Linked DNA regions of Homo sapiens. The protein of the gene in region 1 interacts with the protein of each later gene in a pairwise test. Each region holds a gene or a part of one and is shown on either strand. Other genes may lie near its edges. The genes, in order: TXK and CLNK.

What was found.
Region 2: the proteins of TXK (region 1) and CLNK interact in a two-hybrid assay, tested with the Homo sapiens proteins (one large-scale study listed by BioGRID and IntAct).

The regions. Positions count from the first base shown.
Region 1 is NC_000004.12:48,071,470-48,075,295, forward strand, and holds part of TXK (tyrosine-protein kinase TXK), read right to left. Parts: intron 2,585-3,826; coding exon 2,466-2,584; intron 206-2,465; coding exon 48-205; intron 1-47. UniProt on the Homo sapiens protein: Non-receptor tyrosine kinase that plays a redundant role with ITK in regulation of the adaptive immune response. Regulates the development, function and differentiation of conventional T-cells and nonconventional NKT-cells.
Region 2 is NC_000004.12:10,566,216-10,570,041, reverse strand, and holds part of CLNK (cytokine-dependent hematopoietic cell linker), read left to right. Parts: exon of another isoform or gene 1-106; intron 107-3,826. UniProt on the Homo sapiens protein: An adapter protein which plays a role in the regulation of immunoreceptor signaling, including PLC-gamma-mediated B-cell antigen receptor (BCR) signaling and FC-epsilon R1-mediated mast cell degranulation.

The DNA.
Region 1 (3,826 bases):
CAGATGCTGGGACTGCCAACCTTCATAGGAAAGTAACATATGCTTACCTCATGCCAGCAGCTGTACATGACTTCATATATGGACATTGGTGCCAGGTGAGGGCGATATAGCCTGAAGCCTTCAGAAATAGCTTCCACGACTTGCAAATTTGACTTATTTTCAAAAGGCATTTTTCCTTCTGTAAAAACTTCCCACATTAAAACTCCTGCAAACAAAAATGCAGGAAAACAAGGGGTTAGAGAGAAATGATTGCTTGGGAACTGAAAGAACAATTTCAAACTACAAGGCATTATTTTTGTGCTCCAGGCTTTGGGCTATAACCATCCTGAATAACAGCGGTTCTGTCAAGGAAGCAAATCATGTTCACTTTAGTTTTCAAAGAGGCCTGTAACCTGAAAATAATCTAAGTGAAAACAATGCCTTTCCTTGTCCATGGGTCTTGATTGCCTCTCCTATCAGGAGAAAATGCCAGTAGCATTTTCTTTTCTTTTTTTTTTTTTTTGAGACAGGGTCTCGCTCTGTCGCCCGGGCTGGAGTGCAGTGGCATGATCTCAGCTCACTGCAACCTCTGTCTACCGGGCTGGAGTGCAGTGGCATGATCTCAGCTCACTGCAACCTCTGTCTCCCGGGTTCAAGCAATTCTTCTGCTTCAGCCTCCTGAGTTGCTGGGATTATAGGTGCCCACCACCACGCCCAACTAATTTTTCTATTTTTAGTAGAGGCGGGGTTTCACCATGTTGGCCAGGCTGGTCTCGAGCTCTGACCTCAGGTGATTCGACCACCTCAGCCTCCCAAAGTGCTGGAATTACAAACGTAAGCCATCACGCCCGGCCTAGCATTTTCATTTCTAAGCAGCAGTCACGTTCCTGCATCCTGAAATCAATGAACCTTTCTGCCATTCCATAGAAACTGACAGGATTATGTGAGCCTCTGCTGCCTACTTAGCCAAGAGTTTCAGCCAGTAAATGGCATGTGTCCCCTTCTTTCTGCTAAAAGATTAGACTGATGGGCAGAGCCCCAGAATATCTAGCAGGGGCTCTGTACATAAGTAGATGTCCAATAATCATTGATTGATTGATTAGTGAAACTCCTGCAAGAACTCCTAATTTGAGTTCATTTAATTATTCACTTATTCTACAAATATTTACTAGACATTGATGAGAGGCGAGGCCTCTGCTGGGGCCTGGAGATTTTATAAGTGTGAGATCAATCCATGTGCCTAAGGAGCTCACTGTTCAGTGAGGGAGACAAGTAGGTAAAATTCAGGGAGTTCTAATTGTTTGGCAACCTTCGATGAGGTCGTTATATTGCTCTTCATTGGTCTCTAAGATGTGGTCTCACAACCTAATTGCTCTTCAGTAGAGCTTCAAGTGTCACCTGCTGAGACTATCATATGTCCATGGAGAGCTAATGAGATTAATGACACAAGCTTAACTTTATTGTATGTTTTTAAATTTATGTTTTAATTTTTTTGAGGCAGGGTCTTGCTCTGTCATCCAGGCTGGAGTACAGTGGCACGATCCTAGCTTACTATAACCTCAAACTCCTGGGCTCAAGCAATCCTCCTGCCTCAGCCTCCCGAGGAACTGGGACTACAGGTATATGCCACCACACCTGGCTAATTTTTTTTTTTTTTTTGTAAAGACAGAGTCTTGCTAGGTTGCCCAGGCTAGTCTTGAACTCCTGGTCTCAAACAATCCTCCCACTTCAGCCTCCCAAAGTGCTGGAATTGTAGGCCTGAGCCACTGTGCCCAGTTTTAACCTTATTGTAGACAATAAAACTGACACCCTTCTGAGGACCCAGAACCCACAAGCCTCCAGGAAGTTTGGGGTGAAAGAGGATAGATAGATTTTTGCATATTTATTACCATTTTTTGAAAATCAACCCCGAAACTTCATTGGACGTGGGTCTATGGTGTCTCTTTCTCAATGAAGAACATTATCCAATATGAATATCAATTTATAGATCCCAAGGAAGCCTATGTCTAAATTCCACAAACTTTAAAGTTAAGGAAGTAAATGAGATGCCACCATTTTTTAAACTCAGGTTTTAAGTTCAGGTTAACAACTGAACAACTGGAAAATAGTCAACCTGCTTCACAGTTTAGACAATTAAGTTTATTAATTACACTCTAAACAATGTCATAAGATCATTTTTCCTTCAAGCCTCTGCGGAGTGGAAAACTTATCTGAGTTTGTTTTCTAGATCAGTAGACTCTTTGTTATGGTTTTATAGTGAGTGCCCATGGAGGAAGGAAAAGATCCAAAAGGCAGACTTATGTAAGAAGGTATGTGACACCAGTTGCCAAAGACAGTCGGGATGTGGTTAGAACACACAGAAGGAAGCACAATTACAAGAAGACTTTTTAAAAAATGCTATATCAATTAGGAAATCAAAGTTAAAAATAACACATTGCCCATTTTATTAAATCAAGCTCCAGCAAGTGAACATCAGATGCACTCACCAAATGACCAGACATCAGATTTACTGCTGTACTTATTGAAAAGAAAAACTTCAGGAGGGGACCACTTGATTGGGAACTTGGCTCCAAAAGAACTGACATACTCATCATCCAAAACGTACCTAAGTTTATCAGATTCAAAGCATATTGTGTTAATTACCTCCAAGCTCTATTTACTTCAAATCCCTTTAGTTAACTCTAAGTTGCTAAAAGACAAAGTATTTTACCCCAGAAAGGTTGTGGATGCCTTCTTGTTAGTAGAGTGTGAAAGTGTCCCTGATAATGTTTCCTCCCCAAACAAAGTCTCAATTGTATTTGTTTTACGTGGACCTCTGAAAATCATAATGCTGCTTCAGTTCAAAACATGGCTCACTGTTTATGTTAATTATGGTAAATTCTTAACTCTACAAAGAAGCCTGCTAAAGGCTCTAACAACCAAGATTATAAAAAGGAAATAAAAGACCACTCTTCCCAGGGGTGGGGAAAACAAAGACCACTCTTCTTAAAATGGAAATGAATGATTCAAAGTTGGATGTCGAATTTTCTTCCATGTGCATGTTTTTTTGTGGGGCATACAGAAGGGGGGAAAGTAAAAGTATATGAACATAATGCTTCTGATATGACAAATCTCTAATGCACTAGAATGGCCCTATATGGAAAGAAACCAAGAATAACTACCGTCTCCTTAAAAAAATAACAAGTTGAACCCTCTCTCTTTTTTGAGAATTGTACACCGGGATGTCCAAATGTCAGACACTGAGGAGAAGAGACAAAAATAAACTTGTGCTTGTTGCCCCTTAAATATACAATATAGTGTTTTCACAGCATTTATTAATGCTGCCCCTATACTCTCACTTTTTTTTTAAATACACTACCTCCCTCCACCTGTCAGCACTTTATTGAGTCAGAGGTCATTCTACTTAGGTAAAGAATGACTAACAGAAAACAAAGAGAGAAAAGCCACTGTTTATAGATTTTGAATTTTTCAAGTCTAGGCTCTTCAGAGAAGAAAGATTGAGTTATTAACAAAATATCTTGGAAAATGGGCCATGAACAGGAGTGAGATCTCACTACCACCACCCCTATTACCACCACTATCTAGAAAAAGATCCCCTGAGCTTTGGGGGGATCTTTTTCCCCCAAAAAGAGGAATGGGGGAAATAGAAGGGAAAGAAAAGGGGGGTACTAGACATTAGTAGATCAGTGGGTTAGGGTCCTGTATCTTGTACCCTAAAGGGCTGCCCAAGTACTTTAGGAAAGAAGCTCCTACTCCCACATTAGGTTGGTGGGATTTAAAAGTGACACAGAACCAGTGCTCTTTTCCCCAGGTGGAGCCCTTGGAAAGGCAGAAAGATGCCAGTGAA
Region 2 (3,826 bases), about 38 Mb from region 1:
TCTCCCTTTACTGTGTCAATGGTGAAACTTCCTGGAGTACACATACTAGCAGCTTTGCTTTGCTTTGTCCTGGGTACTGGGCTCTACCTATGGCTCAGCACATCACCTAGAGAAAAAAGATCCAACAGGTACTGAGTTCCTGCTGTGGAATAGATACCAAAGTAGAGACTTGAGATACATTTTCTCAATGAACAACAACAAGATAAGGTGGGTTTAGTCATCTCCAATTTACAGATTGAACATCTCAGTCAGGGAGCTTAAGTAACCTTTCCAAGAATGCAAGATCAAGAGTCATGTCTGTGCTTACACATAACATGATGCCGGCTGCAGATTTTAATGCGGAGGAGCACATTCCAGAATTCCTATAATGACCATTGTGTGTGAGTGCATCTGTTGCAGACTGGTGTCCATTCCTGCCAGTCTAGTGTTCAGACCCAGAGCCTTTGATAGGTGCCTGTGTTAGTCTTCTAGTGTTGCCATAACAATATGCCATAAACTGGATGGCTCAAACAACAGAGGTTTATTTTCTCATGACTCTGAAGACCAGAAGTCCAAGACCAAAGTGCCAGTAGGGTTGGCGAGAACTATCCCCTTGGGATGCAAATGACTACCCTCTCCCTGTGTGCTCACATGGCCTTTCCTCAGTGTGTGCATTTGGGGACGGGTGGGGAGAGAGAGGGAGAAACCCAGAGAAAGAGAGAGAGAGAACTCTCTGGTGTCTCTTCTTATAAGAACACTAATCCTATCAGATAAGAACCCCACCCTCAAATGTTGTGCAGTACCAATGGTCTGTAACCTGGTCTCCTGGCTCCATTTCAGGAATGGAAAAATGACCAAAAAAAAAAAAAAAAAAGGGCAGTCTTGGCCAATTCACTTGGGGAGGAGGTGGCTGGGGGAATATGAACCCACAGAATTTTCTTGACTATACATTTTACCTAAATTCTCACACCTAAACCTGATCGAATGAACTAGAATTTCAAAAATGATGGTGTCAGCTTTAGCACAAAATTTCACATTGCAGTTGCTTTTACTGTGATAGTGTCACATTTTAAGACAATATACAGAGAGTGGTGTCACTTCTTGAGGCCCCACCCTTCACAGTAAAGACCCAAATAATTGCATTTGTTTTCCATTGCTGTGATGTCACATCCCCACAGATTTGGCAGCTTGACCATTTATTATCGCACAGTGGATGCAATCAGAAGTCTGGGCACAGCATGGCTCAACTAGTTCCCCTGTTCTGGGTCTCACAAGACTGAAAGCAACATGCTGGCAGGGCTGCATTCTCCTCCAGGGGCTCTGAAGAGGAACTTGCTTCCAGATTCTTTCGGGTTGTTTCATAGAATCCAGTTCCTTTCTGTTGTAGGACTGTGGTCCCCATGTCCCTGCTGGCTGGCTGTTGTCAAATCCTTCTACTCTTGGACTCCTCTATCTAAATTGTCCTTCTGCCAGATCTCTCTTTCTTTCTTGTCTACTTCCTTTCTCTGACTTCCTCTTCTGCTTTTTAAAACAGGTTTTTCTGAGATAAAATCTACCTGCCATTCAATTTACGCATTTTATGAGTACAATTTAATGGTTTTTTTGTATATTCACAGAGTTGCATAACCATCACTCCAATCAATATATTTTTATCATCTCAAAATGAAACCCAGTCCCCCCTTCCCCCAGACCTTGGCAAATATTAATCTACTCTTTATCTATAGATCCTCCTCTTCCAGACATTTCATATAAACAGAATCATGCAACATTCCATTTTGTATATGACTCCCTTCTTTCATTTAACGTAATATTATCAAGGCTTATCCATGTTATAGCATATATCAGTACTTTACTCGTTTTCATTGCTGAATAATATTCCATTGTGTGACTATACAACACTTTATTACCTATGCAGTAGTTCATGGATACTTGGGTTATTTCCACTTTTTTACTATTAAGAAAAATACTGCTATAAACATGTGCTAGTTTTTGTGTGAATGTGGAGTTGCTGGATTATATGGTAGCTCTGTGTTTAACCTTTTGAGGAACTGCCAAAGCATTTTCTGCAGCAGCTGTACCCTGTTACATTCCCATCAGCAATGCATGAGATCCTCAAATTCTCCACATTCTTGTCAGCCCTGATTATTTTCTGTCTTTTTTTAAATCATCTTGGTGTTGTATGGCTGACATCTCATTGTGCTTTTGAGTTGCATTTTCCTAATGGCTAATGATATTGAGCATCTCTCCATGGGATTATTGATGGTTTGCATATCTTCTTTGAAGAAACATCCATTCATATCCTTTTCCCACTTTAAAATTTGGTTATTTATCCTTAGATCATTGCATTGTAAGAGTTTTTCATATACTCTGGATTTAAGCTCCTTATCAGATACATGATTTGCAAATATTTTCTTCATTCCACAGTTGCCTTTTTATTTTTTGTGGTCTTTTGAAGCACACAAGATTTTCATTTTAATTAAGTCCAATTTATCTATTTCTTTTATTGCTTGTATTTTTTTGTTCTATCTAAGTAATCATTGCCTAAGCCAAGAAATGAAGATTTACTCCAATATTTTAAGGGTTTTATAGTTTTAGCTGTTAAATTTATATTCAAGGCCCATTTGCACTTAATTTTTGCATATGATATAAAAAAGAGGTTCAGCCTCACTGCCATGCATGTGGATATCCAGTTGTCCTAGGACTATCTGTTGAAAGACTATTCTTTCCACCCATTGTATTGTCTTAGTACACTTCTTAAAAATCAATTAACCCTCAGTGTGAAGGTTTATTTCTGGACCCTCAATTATATTCCAATTATCCGCACATCTATCTTACTACCAATACCACATTGTCTTGATTACTGCATCTATGTAGTAACTTTTGAAATAAGTGTTAGTCCTCCAACTTTATCTTTTTTTTTTTTTTTTTTTTCCCAAGATTGTTTTGGCTATTCTTGGTTCTTCTTATTTTCTTAAGAATTTTAGGATTATCTTGTCAATTTCTGCAAAATAAATCAGTGTGTTAATTTGCAAAGTATTTCTATTTTAACAAGATTAAGTCTCCCAATCCATGATCATTAGTCATCTTTCCATTTATTTAGGTCTTCTGAAATTACTATCAACAGTGTTTTTGCAGTTTTCAGTGTACAAATTTTGCACTTCTTTTGTTAAATGTATTTCCATATATTTTATTCTCCTTGATGCTATTGCTAATATAATCGTTTTCTTTTTTAAAACATTTTTGTACAGATGAGGTCTCACTCTGTTGCCCAGGCTGTTCTCAAACTCCTAGCCTCCAGCAATCCTCCTACCTCAGCCTCCCAAAGCGCTGGGATTACAAGCATGAGCCACCGCACCTAGCCCATTTTCTTAATTTCTATTTTCAATTTGTTATTACTAATTTATAGAAATATAAATTGTCATTACTAGCATATAGAAATACAACTGAATTTGGTATATTAATCCTGTATCCTGCCACCTTGAGGAATTATTTATTAGTTCTAATAATTTTTTAGTGAATTCTTCAAATACAAGATTATCTTATTTGCAAGTAAGTCCTCTTTCTGCTTCTAAGGGTTCATGTGATTACATTGGGCCCACCCAGGTAATCCAGGACAATCTGCCTATTTTAAGGTCAGCTGATTAGTGACCTTCATTACATCTGCACTGTCCCTTCACAGCAGTACCTAGATTAGTATTGATTCAGTAACCAGAGATGAGAATATTGGGAGATATCTTTAGAATTCTCACTAGCACAAGAATTAAACTTCTATTTAAGATCCCAGACCCTAGATTCTTAAATATTTAACTTGCAGCTAAGAAGGTCTACCCCATTTCTCTAGCCAGCA